Homo sapiens: one gene and its partner. The protein of the gene in region 1 purifies or fractionates together with the protein of each later gene. This does not show direct contact. Each region holds a gene or a part of one and is shown on either strand. Other genes may lie near its edges.

What was found. Proteins that work in one complex are often made in the same cells at the same time.
Region 2: the proteins of STX12 (region 1) and NAPG purify together in Homo sapiens (affinity purification with mass spectrometry; 5 studies listed by BioGRID and IntAct, with this or other methods). This does not show direct contact.

Annotation. Positions count from the first base shown.
Region 1 is NC_000001.11:27,768,323-27,776,226, reverse strand, and holds the start of STX12 (syntaxin-12), read right to left. Parts: upstream 3,009-7,904; 5' UTR 2,920-3,008; coding exon 2,802-2,919; intron 1-2,801. UniProt on the Homo sapiens protein: SNARE promoting fusion of transport vesicles with target membranes. Together with SNARE STX6, promotes movement of vesicles from endosomes to the cell membrane, and may therefore function in the endocytic recycling pathway.
Region 2 is NC_000018.10:10,521,359-10,529,045, reverse strand, and holds the start of NAPG (gamma-soluble NSF attachment protein), read right to left. Parts: upstream 3,020-7,687; 5' UTR 2,944-3,019; coding exon 2,888-2,943; intron 2,600-2,887; exon of another isoform or gene 2,472-2,599; coding exon of another isoform or gene 2,281-2,471; intron 46-2,280; coding exon of another isoform or gene 1-45. UniProt on the Homo sapiens protein: Required for vesicular transport between the endoplasmic reticulum and the Golgi apparatus.

The DNA.
Region 1 (7,904 bases):
GCCTGGAACACAGTATGTACTCAAATGTTAGCTATTAATATTACTAACAGTTGACTTAAATGATCCCCTGAGGCCCAATGCCCAATCAATAGCTAAATCTTACCAATTCTATCACCAAGGAAACCTCTCCTATCCTTTCCTTTCTTTTCATTTTCACAGCCCTAACTGGTATCTCTGATTCCAGTCTCTCCCTTTGAATTCAATTCGCACTTTCCTAAATAACTAAATCCAAGCCCCTTAGCTTAGCATTTAACATCCTTCATGTTTGGGCCACAATTTACCTTTCAATCCTTTTTTCCCACTACTTTCTGGAATCCACCACTCTAGCCAAATTAAATTACTCTTCTAGATATACTCTATGCTTCCCCACTATGATGCCTGTTCATTTTATTCCCTCCTGGAATGCTCTTCTCCTCTTTACCTTCGAAGGTCCAAATCTTTCCATCCTCTTTCCAGACATAACTCAAATGCCATAATGCCTTCTCAATTAAAAACAATCTCTCTCTTCCCAGAATACCTGCATGTTATTTATATGTCTTCTATAGCACCAATCCCTTTCAACTTTATATTTTGGTTATGAACTCTGCAGGTTCCCTGTTGAAAGATCCATGCCAGTTCTTATACTTACTACATACTCAAATAAATATATGTTGAAGGCCAGGCATGATGATTCATGCCTGTAATCCTGGCCTATTCGGAGGCCAAGGTGGGTGGATCACTTGAGCACAGGAGTTCAAGACCAGACTGGACAACATGGTGAAACTCCATCTCTACAAAAAATATAAAAATTAGCCGGGCGTGGTGGTGCACACCTGTAGTCCCAGCTACTTGTAGGGCTGAGGCAGGAGGACTGCTTGAGCCAGGGAGGTTGAGGCTGCAGTGAGCTGAGATCATGCCACTGCATACCAGCCTGGGTGACAGAGTGAGACCCTGTCTCAAAATAAAAATTTAAATTTAAATTTAAAACTGTATGTCGGATCTACCTTTGGGAGTATTCTGGTTTTATATATATATAAAATACACACGAAGATGGATAGATGGATACATGTTGAATGAATATTTCGCAAATAGATATTAAAATTAGATTTAGCTTCAACAAGAAAATTTCAGCCTTGAACTAGAATTTTCTGATCTAACCTGTATTACAGCTCCTTCACAAAAGGAAACTGGAACAAACAGTACTATACTTTCTAACCAGTGGTCATATTAATTTTTTTTACTTCTGGATTTTAACAGGCCACATATTCTTCCTTTCACTTCCAGAGTCTCAATCCCTTTTGATCAGAAACTTTCTACTTCTCAAATTCTACAATATACATTTAGATTTAAAAGCAAAGTGAGCCTGGGCAACATAGTGAGACCCCATCCCTACAAAAAATTTAAAAATTAGCCTGGCACGGTAGATGCATCCTTGTAGTCCTTGCTACTCAGCAAGCTGATCAGGAATTCAAGGTTATAGTGAGCTAGGATTGTACCACTTCACTCAGATCACTGCATTCTGCCTGGGTGACAGAAGTAGACTCTGTCTCGAAAAAATAAATTAAAAATATTTTAAATCAAAAAAATTAGGCTAGGCACAGTGGCTCACGCCTGTAATCCCAGCACTTTGGGAGGCTAAAGTGGGAGAAGTGCTTGTGCCCAGGGGTTTGAGACCAGCCTGGCCAACATAGCAAGACTTCATCTCTACAAAAAAGAAAAATTTTTAAAAGTTTAAAAACGAAAGCAAAGTGACACTCTTTAAAATATAGAATATAATTGTAATTCAGGACTAACTAGTTCTACCTATTAACAGAGTACGCCAAGCTCACAAAACAATAATAAACAACAAGGATGATGACCACCATTCTTTCCAAGTAAAGCTGCTGCTGATCTCCTGTTTATAAGGCTCCAAGATGATTTTCAAGCACAAGAAACACCCTGTATTTGACTCATTCAGCTACAGTTTCACTCAGACCCTAATGGGGAGGAGGGAGTTTTAAGACAAGCAATAGCATTCTGAATTCCACCAACAACTCTACCATGCCTTACTTGCTATGTGGTTGTGGCTAAGTGTCTTAGCTTCCCTGTGTACCAGATTTGTTCAAGAGCAGCTAAGTAGGGAAGGAAAACAAAAGCCTCATCTGCCTGAAATCCAAAAATACACCCCAATTATTTGTTACAAAAGACAAAATAATGTAAATTGAAATGCTGTTGGTGAATTCTCTTTATTAAAATGAAGTCATCCCACCTTTCAAATACCAGTCATTGTGTCTGATTTCCGAATTCATTACAGGAAGAACTGTGTATGAAGTCACCCAAACACATGCACTCTCCACTTCCCTTAATTGAAAGTTGCTGATTTCCGAGGAGCCAGGGGCTGAGCAGAATGTAAACCTAAAGGCTAAATCAGTAAACAACCCCATCCAAACTGGTCTAAGAGGAAAGCGAGGTGGGTGGGGAGGAAGGTGGGTGACAGGAGAAACTCGGCTGACCACTGCGCCAAGTCAACGCACTCACAGCTCTCGAGGTGACACACACTCCCCTTCCCACCCTCGGGCTGTCAAGTCGGCTGTTTTGGTCCCAGCACCGTGGGGGCAGAACTCCAGAGAAGCAGCTCAAGCTTCAGCTGGGGCCGGGGACCCTCGGGCAACCCGGGCCTGACAGATTGGGGGATGGCAGCCCACCGCCCCCAGGGTGGACAGCCCGAGACAGCCCCAGGTGTGGCCTCGGCCGTAGCCCCAGCCGGGCCCTGCGTCCCGGCAGCCTCACCCAGGCCTGTCCCCGGGACAGCTCCCGCCCCCCAGCTCGGTACCCCGGCTCACTGGCTTGGCTGATCCGCTGGATGTTGCCGCTGCACGTCTGGATGATGCTGCTGAAGTCCCGGAGCTGGGGCCCCGAGGGCCCCGGGTTCCGGTACATGTCTAAGGGACCGTATGACATGACGAGGAGCTGAGACCTGCTCGCTCTACACCGCTCTCCTACCGGAAGCAGCCGCCAGCCGGGACCCGCAGGCTGACGGAGAAACTGGGAAGAGCAAGGGCGGGGAAGGAGCTAAGGCTGCGTGCGCACTAGCCCCGCCCTCACGCGGCGCGCACGCGTCCTCCCCGCCCCGGTCCAAAGTGCGCAGGCGCCGCTGGGACTGGAGCTGGGACTGGAGCTGGGACTGTAGCTTAGAGACAGGACTCCCCGAGGCTTGGGGATGCAGGGCGGGGAGATGACGTCACCTAGTTGGGGCTGAGATTGGATGAGCTTGGGTGGAGGTGTTGTTTCTCGCCAGGGCACAGTGACAAGAGGCAAGAATTTTCGATTTGCATAAAACTGTACCAGATGATCTCAGCCCTTACATCCTATTCTGTTCTGAGAATTCAGGCCCAAATATGGGAGAATTCAACGTTGAAACTCAGACCCGGAACCAAATCGTAACCCGAAATTCCTCTCTACTTCCATCCCCAGGGCTTTGGTAGTGTTTGGGGTTTCCAAACCACTTTCATTTCTCCCTCCACCCCTCTTCTAATCTAAACAATAAAATAATGTTTATTGAGCACATACTATGTGAATCCTCACCGCAATTCACTTGTTCATAAGATTTTTCACAGCAGGGGACGATGCTCTATCTATATTTTTATCATTAGAATAGATAACGGAGAGTCGGTTTTTTAAATGTTGAAGTAAAGTAATTCATCAAAGTAAGCATTATTATTTTCCCTCTTACCGATGAGAAAATTAAGACCAGCGAGGTTAGTTCGCCTTGCTGAAATTTGACTGCAAAACCCAAACGCTAAGCTGACTCTCTCCTCACCTCGCTACTTCTCTAAAATTCATTCTCGTCTAAATCTCTCCCAAATAGCTCGTTCATCTATATCCCAAGCCGGGATATCTTGGAGAACTAGATTCCTAAAATTTAAAAATCGTTCCCTTAAGTAATTTGGAATGCATGACCTCAATGTTCCCACAGAAAACTGCATTTTTGTAAGCCTATGTTAAAAGGAAAGACATAGGATTTTGGTTTGGGAGGAGATCAAGATAGTGAGAAGTGAAGGGGAACTGGCTGCGTTTCCTGTGTTCTACACCCCACCCCACCCCACCCCAGCCTGCTTTGTAGTCTTTGGAAAATGCAAAGACAGAAAGCTGCTTGCCTGGATGAAAGGAGACCCAAAGTGAATGAGCCTGTATATGGCCTTAGGATTTTTTCTTTATTTTATTTTTTTTGAGACAGGGTCCCGCTCTGTCACGCAGGTTGGAGTGCAGTGGCGCGATCTCTGCTCACTGCATCCTCCTTCTCCTGGGCTCAGGAGGTCCTACCACCTAACCTCTGAGTAGCTAGGATTACAGGCGTGCGCCACCACGCCCAGCTAATTTTTATATTTTTTGTAGTGTTGGGGTTTGGCCATGTTGTCCAGGCTGGTCTCAAACTCCTGGGCTCAAGCAATCCACCCACCAGCCTTAGGATTTTTTAAGGGTGACTATCTCTATTTTTCGTTGGAGAATTTATGAGAGCATTTTTTTTCCCTGTCTCTAGAAAGAGACGGATGACATTTGGGGACTCTTATTTTGGTTATTTTATTTTATTTTATTTTTGAGACAGAATCTTGCTCTGTTGCCCAGGCTGGAGTGCAATGGCGCAATCTCGGCTCAATGCAACCTCCGCCTCCTGGGTTCAAGCGATTCTCCTGCCTCAGCCTCCCGAGTAGCTGGGATTACAGGCGTGTACCACCACGCCCGGGTACTTTTTGTATTTTTAGTAGAGATGGGGTTTGACCATGTTGGCCAGGCTGGTCTCGAACTCCTGACCTCAGGTGATCCACCCGCCTCGGCTTCCCAAAGTGTTGGGATTACAGGCGTGAGCCACCGCACCCAGCCTGTTTTGGTTATTATTATAAAACCTTACCGTTTCTTAGAATCTGTAGTTTTATGTCAAATCTTAAGCAAGTCATGTAAATTGCACTTTTTTACCTATATAATAGTACTGATGATTTTTTTCATTTACATTTGACACTATTTAAAGTGAAGTTCAGTAAAGATATTTTTCTTTTAGGAATTAAAAATATTGTTTTCTTTCTCCATGTAAAATAAAAGTGGTTTTTAGGCTGGGCGCGGTGGCTCACAACTGGAATTCCAGCACTTTGGGAGGCTGAGGCAGGCTGATCATTGCTTGAGCTCAGGAGTTCGAGACCAGCCTGGGCAAAATGGCAAAACCCTATCTCTACCAAAAATACAAAAATTAGCTGGGCATAGTGGCCTGAGCCTGTAGTCCCAGCTACTCGGGAGGCTGAGGCAGGAGTGTAGCTTAAGCCAGGGAGGCAGAGGTTGCAGTGAGCATCTCTCATAGCAGTAAATCTGTGCCTTGCAAATACTGGATGTCAAACAAACATTTATTGAATTAACACATGAATAATAAAAATAATAATTTTATCATTGCTTAAATGCCTGTTAGGTGCCAGGCAGTATGAACACATTTTGTGTACGTTATCAGTAATCTCCAAGATAAAGCCCATCTGATAAAGACCACCTGTAGTCAGACAAAGTTAAGTTTATTAACTTGCTGCTGCAAGGGAAACTGCACACCAAAAGAATCATGGAGCATGTCACAAAACACAGGAAGACAGTGAGTTATTCCAGGATTTGGGGGAAAGAAATGTAGATAAATTTTTAAAGAAGCAGTGTTTTGATAGCCCCCAAACACACCAGGCTATGTGTAAAGGGATTATCATCAGGCCCCAGCTAACAAGATCCTGTTTCCTTGGAAACCATGATGCCAAGATAAATGTGGAATGTTGTGTCTGGAAACCCCTTATCTGAAGCTCTGCACCTGCGTTAGAAATTGAGGCTGCTCTTCTGCATCAAAGTAACTGATCCTCCAGGTAAGAGTGATATATTCCATTCTTACTGATAATTTGAGCAACAAATTTTCTAAAAATCTATGGCTTTAGAGAAAATGTCTCTCAGCTCTACATACTTTTGTTAATTAACGAAAGTAGTCTTCATGGGTTTGCACCCATCAAGGCGATATTAGCTCCTTGGTACGGATAAAGAAACTAGAGATTCTGGGTACTTGCCTAATGTCATACAGCTGTTAAGTGACAGAGCCAGGATTCCCATGCACCTTCTGACCCAGCAATTCTACTCCTAACTATATACCCAACTATGCGTGTTCCAAAAATCAGGTATAGTTCATAGGAGCATTTTTAGGACCAAGCAGCATTTTTCTATACTTATTTACTTTTTGTTTTTTTTTTTCGGAGACAGGCTGGAGTGCAGTGGCGTGATCTCGACTCACTGCAGCCTCAATCTCCCTGGCTCAAGCCATCTTCCTACCTCAGGCCTCCAAGTAGCTGGGACTACAGGCACGCACCACCACACCTGGCTAATTTTTGTATTTTTTTGTTGAGATGTGGTCTTGCCATGTTGCCCAGGCTGGTCTCAAACTCCTGGGCTCAAGCAATTCACCCACCTCGGCCTCCCAAAGTGCTGGGATTACAGGAGTGAGCTATGACACCCAGCCCTTACATTTAATTTTTATTGAGTTATAATTGATATACAATCGAATGCACAGATAGTAAGTGTTCAGCTCAATGGATTTTGACACTTGTACACATCCATGTAACTGCCACACCCAAATCAAGAGATAAAACATTTTTATCATCACCCCAGAAAGTTTCCTTGACTTATGCTCCTTTTTAATCCATTTCCCTCATCACTGGAAGTTACTTACTGATTTTTTTTTTTTTTTGAGATGGAGTCTCACTCTGTCGCCCAGGCTGGAGTGCAGTGGCACGATCTTGGCTCACTGCAACCTCCACCTCGTGATTCAAGCAATTCTCCTGCCTCATCCTCCCAAGTAGCTGTGAATATGGGCATGCGCCACCATGTCCAGCTAATTTGTTTTGTATTTTTAGTGGAGACAGGGTTTCACCATGTTAGTCAGGCTGGTCTCGAATGATCCACCCGCCTCGGCCTCTCAAATGATCCGCCTGGCTCAGCCTCTCAAAGTGCTGGGATTACAGGCATGAGCCACACTGCACCTGGACTTTACTTTCTGATTTTTGTCACTACAGATTAGCTTTGTCTGCTCTTGGACTTCATACTTTATATATTCTTTAGTGTTTGGCTTTTTTCAATTAACACAATGTTTTTGAGATTTATCCATGATGTCACATATATCAGTAGTTTGGTCTTTTTTTATTACTCATTAGTATTTCCTCATATAAATATACTTACAGTTTGATTATCCATTCTCTTATTGATGGATGTTTGCATTGTTTCCAATTTGGTGTTATTATGAAGTTCATAGCAGTATTTATTTTTACTAGTTCCAAACTGTAAACAACTCGAATATCCATCAACAGAGGTTTGTATAAACAGATATTATAAAGCACAAAAATAAATGGCCTACTGCTGTGTGAACAACATAGGTGACCTCTTCCCAACAATGCATAGCTAAAGAAGCCAGACACAAATTAGCTAGGCACAGTGGTGCACACCTGTAGTCCTAGCTACCTGAGAGATCAAGGTGAGAGGATCCTTGAGGCCAGGAGGTCAAGGCTGCAGTGAGCTATGATTGCACCACTGCACTCCAGCCTGGGCGACACAGCGAGACCCTGTCTCTTAAAAAAAAAAAAAAAAAAAAAAAAAAAAAGGAGAAGAGGAAGCTAGACATAAAATGAGTACAATCTGTATCATTTCATCTTTATTAAGTTCAAAACTGGCCAAATTAAATCTATGTTATTAAAAGTCAGAATAGGGCCAAGTGCAGTGGCTCATGTCTGCAATCCCAGCACTTTGGGAGGCCAAAAGGATGGATCACTTGAGCTCAGGAGATCAAGACTACCCTGGACAACATGGTGAAACCCTGTCTCTACAAAAAATACAAAAATTAGCTGGGCATGGTGGCACAGGCCTGTAATCCCAGCTACTCGGGAGGCTGA
Region 2 (7,687 bases), on another chromosome or scaffold:
CTGTTAGTCCTTTTGACCTTTTTCTCCAAAGAATCAATAAGGAAACTGACCAATTTCCACAGAAAAAAAGAAAACAGCAAAATTACCATCTGTGTGGGGATCAATTTACAAAATTACTCAGCAATATTGAACTACGTCATCATTAGAAAATGGAGAAAAATCAAATATCTCCTAAGCTCCTGGCCCATTTTTCCTACCACCCACTGAGTAACTCTGTCTAGCAGCATTTCAAACTAACACTTCAAGCCTGAACTCCACACCTCCCCGCCCCACCTCCCTGCCCCAGACCTACCCACCAATCACATCCATTAATCTATATCCCCTATCTTGGCTGAAGGCCTCTCCCACTCGTCTCCCAAGTTAGAAACCTAGGAGTTAACTCTTCATCTCTACATGCAGGCACCTCATTAAAGCATGTCAACCTTACTGACAAACATCACCCAGTCCTACCCCTGTACTGTTATTTGAATTCAGGCCATCACCACCTCTCCCCTGAAGTCGACAACCCACTAACATGTCTGGCAGTACCTTCATGGGAGAGTCACCTTTCCTCCTCTTCCATTCCCCACATCCTGAGCATATTACCTTTTCCTTGCTTCCTATCTCTACCATACCACACTGAATACTTCTATTCTAGCACTGAACATCCTATTTTTAGTCCTCTGTTAACTTGTCTGCCCACCTGTGAATTCTAAGCTCTTGAAGAAGGGACCACTTTTGGTTACTCCAGTATCCTCTGTGGCTGGTACAGGTACACAGAGACAACTTTGTAAATGTTCGTTTACTGAATATGTCAAAGTCCATTCTCCACACTGCTGCCACATTTCTTTTTCTTTTCCTTTTTATTTATTTATTTTTTTGATACAGAGTCTTGCTCTGTCTCCCAGGCTGGAATGCAGTGGCGCGATCTCCGCTCACTGCAACCTCCGCCTCTAGGGCTCAAGGGATTCTCCTGCCTCAGCCTCCTGAGCAATTGGGATTACAGGTGCGCGCCACCACAGCCGGCTAATTTTTGTATTTTTAGTAGAGACAGGGTTTCACCATGTTGGCCAGGCTGGTCTCGAACTCCTGACCTCAAGTGATCCACCCGCCTCAGCCTCCCAAAGTGCTGGGATTACAGGCATGAGCGACAGGGCCCAGCCTGCTGCCACATTTCTTTCACCAAAAGCAAATCTAACCGAGTCCACTGGTTGGATGCCTACAATAGCCATGTGAGAAGCTGTCCCTTCACAGTCTGGCCCCAACTCTTTTTCACTCCAGCTCGTCCCCTGGCACTGTGACTACACTACATTCACTGTTCCCAGAGCACATTTTCAGGCCCGCGTATAATACATACTACAGGTTGCGCACAGAATCTCTTTCACAAGATTTTCCCTCCGTCTAAAACATTCCGTATTTTTCAAGCTCTGCTCACAAATCATCTCCTCCTCAAATTTTCTCAGGCAGAATAAACTTCTCCCTCTGGGTTACCTATGCACAGTTAATACAGCTTTTTTGTGGTCCCTATTCCACACACTATTCTTATTACAAATTTTGCGTTTGCTCCCACTAGAAAGCAGAATGTTGTGGGAACCTCCTGCACCAGGAGAGCCCCAGCACCTTACACGCTGACTGCCTCGAGTCATGTGATAGAGCTTGAGTTTTTCCACTGTTTGAAAACTGGCTCTGCGATCTTTCACCTGTGCAGTTGGGGGCAAGTCGTTATGAGGCTTCCCTGAGTCTCATTTCCTCTTACGAAAAATTAGAATCTCTATTTGGAAAGTTATTGTGAAGATCTCAGCTTATGAAATTATGTATGTGAAGCACCCACCACAGAGCACAATGCTGACTTTTTCTTTTCTTTTTTTTTTTTTTTTTTGAGACGGAGTCTCGCTCTGTGGCCCAGGCTGGAGTGCAGTGGCGCGATCTCGGCTCACTGCAAGCTCTGCCTTCCGGGTTCAGGCCATTCTCCTGCCTCAGGCTCCCGAGTAGCTGGGACTACAGGCGCCCGCCACCACGCCCGGCTAATTTTTTGTATTTTTAGTAGAGACGGTTTTCACCGTGTTAGCCAGGATGGTCTGGATCTTCTGACCTTGTGATCCGCCCGCCTCGGCCTCCCAAAGTGCTGGGATTGCAGACGTGAGCCACCGCGCCCGGCCCACAATGCTGACTTTCTATTAACTGTAACTGCCAGATAAAAATGCACTGGAGTAATGAAACGGGGGGAAGAGGCTGCCAAAAGGATGAATTAAGGATTATCAGTTCAGTCCCACAAACATTTGCAGGGTGCCTACTACGTACTGTACCAGAGGTGGCAGGACATACACATCAAAGGACGAACGAAGCACAGTCCCTGCCCACAGGGACAGTAAAATGCCAGATGACAAAGGTTCACCGAGGAGTTTTTGGGGTAAACCTATGGTCCCCTCCACACAGGGGGCTCTTCTAGGGCGGTGGTTCTCAACAGAGCGATGTTGTTCCCCAGATGACATTTTGGGTTGCCACAAATGGGGAAGAGATGCGACCGGCACCCAGCAGGTAGAGGCCAAGGATGCTGCTAACGAGCCTCCGATGCACAGACAGCCCCCACCACAATCTTCAGGAGCAGAGCGCCCAAGTAGAGAAGCCCTCGCCCCGCAGCACTGCGCCGAGTCCCCGCCCACACCGGCTCTGGGGAGCGGACTTCCGGCGGGGTGGACCCACGGCGCTTCCCGAGGCGCCGCAGAGCTGACCCCGACCCCGGGAGTGTGACCCAGAGGACACCGAGCCCCGGCAGCCCTGCGGGCACCAGCGCGCCGAGGCCCCTCAGCCCTGAGCCCTCCCTCCCGCCCCCCCCGGGTGCTAAGGCCGCGCCAGTGAGAGACGGACCCGGCGTCTACACACAGGCCCCCGGAAGGTTCTCACTCACTATTTCTCTGCTTTGGCGAGGTGTTCCAGCCCCTCGTTTATCTTCTGAGCCGCCATCTCCACAGTCAGGTCTCTGACGTGGAGAGAGGGTGACCCTGCCTCTTCCTCCGGCGCCAAGAATCCGCCCAAATAGGCGTGGGAACGCCGAGGAGGAAGCTGGTGCAGCGCGACAGTCGAGCGGCTACGGAGGGCCGGAGGGCCCAAGCCGCTGCGACGAAGCGGGGCTGGGAGCCTGCCGGTGCGCCCCGCAAAGAGACATTGCGCAGGCGCAGCGCGTCAAGGCTGGCCCCACCTAGGGCATCTAGCGCAGGCGCGGTGAGATACTGATGGGGCGTATTCTTTCATTCAATATTTGCAAAGCACCTAATATGTGTCAGGCACTATTTTAGATGCGGGAAGATCAGCAGACAAAAACTCCCGCCCTCTTGAAGTCTTGCTTTTTCATTAATGTGAAACTGCTGTGGATCCTGTTTGTAGGGTTAATTGGCTTTATAATTTATTACATCTGAAGTTTCTCTGTATGACAGATAGAATAGTATTCTTCTATCCATTCTGCCTTTTGGGTATTAATTGTATGTCAGTCAAGAAACGAAACAGACTTGTAAACCCTGATTACTGTCAAATAATCCGCGCCCAACCCAAATAATCGCTCTAATATTTCAAGCCGTGATAAGTGCTCTAAATGGGAAGTTGAGGGATCTAAAGTCGCGTACAGTGGTCTGGTAAAAATAGTAACCAGTAATACAGTTGGCTTCATTCATAATTCATGGTGATTTCAATATCCACATGGATGATTCCTGCAATGACTATACAGCCTCTCAGCTTCCAACCTCCTGTGATCTTTCCCACACTAGCGCAGCCACACATTCCTGGGATCACACCCTTGACCTTACTCATAACTGTGTACCCTCCGTAGTGTCAGTTTCAAACAGCTCACTTTACTTCCCCTTTCCATTCCAGCTCATACCTCCTAGTGCTAGTAATTACTTAACCTTCACCAGATTCCTCACCTTTCCCTATCCCTCTGCTCTTACACGTCCTTCTTTTCCCAGCATAAATTCATGTCCCATCATTTTAGTGCGTATACTCTCAACGGCCTTGGCTCCCTCTCCCTCCTTTCTCCAAGCCAGGAAAAACCCCAGCTCTCCACCTACTCTGGAACTGCTCTTGAGCAAGTGAATTTGACTGGAAAAAAACAAACGAGGATGCTAACATTACTCATTTTAATGATCATAAACATTAAGCCGACCTTTGGTGCTGCTGAGCAACTCTCCTATGTTTCCATGGTCAAATCACTCACCCACTCACTTGGAGGGCTGTTCACACCTTCCTTCTCAAAACTCCTACACAATCTCTGCTTGCCTGCCAACTCTCACTTATTGTTGAATATGAAATAACTATTCGAAGAGTTCTTCCCTTTGGCCTCACCACACAATCGATCGATCTTCCTGCATCTATTTGCCAATCAATATTTTGCATTTTTTCTAGTGCCAACAGGTGAACTGGCCTTGGATTTTTTTCTCTATCCTCACTTTCTTATTTAGTACCCACACACAAGACCCCTCTTCATTTGGTTGTCTAGCCTGGGCTTCCTTTATAGGAAGGCAGCAGAATTTCAAGAGAGTGAAAGTGGAAACTTCAGGCTTCGTAAGGCCTGGACTCCCACTGCACATTACTTCTGCCACATTTTATTGATGAAAACATGTCATAAGGCAAGTTCAGATTCAAGAGGTAGGAAAATAGAGGAGTGTAAAATACTTTGGCCATGACTTCCAATTCACCACAACTCTGGGATGACTGATTAAATATAAAAGGACTGTTACCAGTGGAAAGCCTTATGTTTTCAAGTGAGTTTAGATTTATTAACCACCCAATACCATCACCCTCTAAAACCATTGAAAGTGCCCAGAAAGTTTTCTAAGCCTATAACCTCCTCCACATTCTCCCTTATTTATTCATTCATTATTGAATTATTGTTTACTGAATGCCCACTCTGCACAAGACATTAAGCCTACACACCTAGGACCCAATTGTTGAGCAAGAGATATAATGCCTGCCCTCATTGCATTCATGATCTATGAGAGGATACAATATTTAACTTAATTTTACTTTGGCATCAACAAAGAAAGAATGGGAAAAAAACCCCACGATAGTGATATAGCAGTTATTAAGAAATACTTTTTAGGCAGATAGTAAGGGTAAATGTTCTCAGTGGAAATTTTCCTGTTTTAAGAAACAACCCCTGAACCATCTCTTTTCTAACAGAAAAGGCAGCTTGAAGAGCCAGGCCCGCAAGCTTTGATATGCAAATGTCAGTCCTTAGAAACTGAGTTCACTCAACATGGTGATTCCGCCATCTCTTCCTTGTCATCAGGTGTACCAAGTGTCATGGCCACCTCCAGATAACACCATGTGTTCAGAACATCACGGTGACCTGTATTTGCATATTAAAGGGCTAAGGTGGGAGGGCCAGGTTTTTCGAGAGCTATGTAAATGACACACCTGGTCAAACCAATCCCCTGGGCCCTATGCAAACCAGACACCACCTCCTCCAGGATCCCAATATAAGCAACCACTTTTCCACTGCACACTGGGTTTTCTCTTTGTTCAAATCCTCCCTACCTCTGTCTCTGTATGGGGGAGGTGTTTTCTTCTTCCTTCCTTCTTTCTTGCCTATTAAACTTTTCACTCCTTAAAACCACTCCACGTGTCCGTGTTGTTAATCCTATCAGCACGAGACCAACAACCCTGGTGTTCCTCCATTCGTTGGAGCTATATCAATAGCCATGGGCATTCAAGGGTTCTATGTTTCAAAGGACCCTTGACCAGGGAAGCCGTGGTAAGTATGTGCTAACATGCATTCATAGTAAAGGGGAGAAGAAGAGAGAGAATGGGCACAGTAAAGGTGTAACACAAATGCCCCCACTTTCTTCCCCTCCCCTTCTCTTCCTGCAATAACATTGAGGTGGGAGTTGAGCAAGGGGAATTTAAACTGAGAAGTCAGCTTAGAAGAACTGAGAATGGAAAGCATGGACCAAATGATGATAGACTAAGACGTGTAGTTTCCCAAGCTAGAATCGATAGTGTGACCCCAGGCCTTGTTGACCCATAAACGTAATTCTTGTTATCACAGCAGCTACCACCAGAACCTCAGCAAAAGTTGTCTTTGTGACTTCAACTTACCTCTTGCCTCCTCTCCTAAGGCTCTTTAGACGCTCATGTCCTCCCTCACCTACCCCGTCAACATACAGACTTGCTGGCTGCTGGCCCAAGTGATTCCATCTGAGCCAATCCTCTCCTCTAGTTCTAGAAACTCTTTTTCTTTATCCTGCCTCAATAAAAATGTGCATTCCTGAGTGATCTACTTGTTTTGGATGTGACTAAAATGATTCACATCAAAGTGTGAATGAGGCTTAAAATAGAGCTTGCAAACCCCATTCCTTCTCTCATGGTGGGCTTAAGTCTCTGAGAGTTCTTTAAGCCTGCATCCCCAGGTTCCTTGTCTACACAAACCTGCTTCCTTCCCCTAGCCTAGTCTGCTGCCAGGAAGCAAAATCCTTGGACCTACCTCCCACAGCTGAATGTTCCAGTCAAATAAAAGGTCTTTGTCATTTCTTGGAGAGAGGGTTTGATGGGTCAAATGAGCTCTATTTCAAATCAGGAATCATAAATAAGGAAACATAAGAGCTCCTATATCGCTAAGTTTTCTTTGTTTGTTTAATTGCTAGTAGCCTGACTGTGTAATTTTACCCTTTTCCCCCACAAATATACTGTTATGTTATACAAGAGATACACTTCTGAGACCCAGCCCAAGAGGTTAGCCATGAATCATAAAATCATTTCTCTGGGAAAATATATTCTGAGTTATAAATAACGAATTTACAAAAAACCTTTGGAACAAATTCTGCTATCATTTGACAGTTCCTTTCATCAGAATAGGATTTTAGAAGATTGTTCTTGGCTTTTTTTCTGATAAAACTAATAGAAGCCATTATGATCTGTATTTTTTTTTCTGGTTAAGTGTTAATGAATACATTGACTTTTAAAAATCACCACTGAATCTCTATGAGATTAATATGGAGAATTCGTTCTCCAGATTCCTGTGTCCAATGCCTTCTTAGCAGCTCCACCTAGACATCTAAAATGTCATACATAATCTGTTCAAATCTGAGCTCCTGATGCTCCCATACCTGCTCTCCCTTCAGGCTCAGCCATGCTGGGTTCATGGCAGCTTCACCCTCTCCTTGCCCAAACACTTGGAGTCATGCTCCTCTGCTCTTTCTGTCGCACAACACATGCAATCTGTAGGAAATTCTGTCGACTTTGCCTCCAAAAAGTGCCCAGAGGCAACCACGTCTCCTCATCTCCCTGTCCACAGCCACCGCGTAGTCTGTTAGTTGCCATCGTCTGTGACTGCACTCACCATCTGTGTTCAGAACACAGTGCAGTGCGAATTCCAGAGCAGAACTCAGTCAATTTTGGCTGAAAGTCCTGTGTCATTACGGAAGAAGAGGAAGAAGCATTTGGACACTTGGAAGGTGTTTTCTCTCAAGTCTGGCCATGGCCCTTCTTCAAGGTAATTTCTTTTCTTTCTTTCTTTCTTTCTTTTTTAAATTATTCTTTCTTTTTTTTTAGAGACAGGGTCTTACTCTGTCACCCAGGTTGGAGTGCAGTGGCATAATCATGGCTCACTGCAGCCTCAAACTCCTAGCCTCAAGCAATCCTCCTGCCTCAACCTCCCAAGTAACTGGGACTGTGGGTATGTGCCACCACACCTGGCTATTTTTTATTATTATTTTTA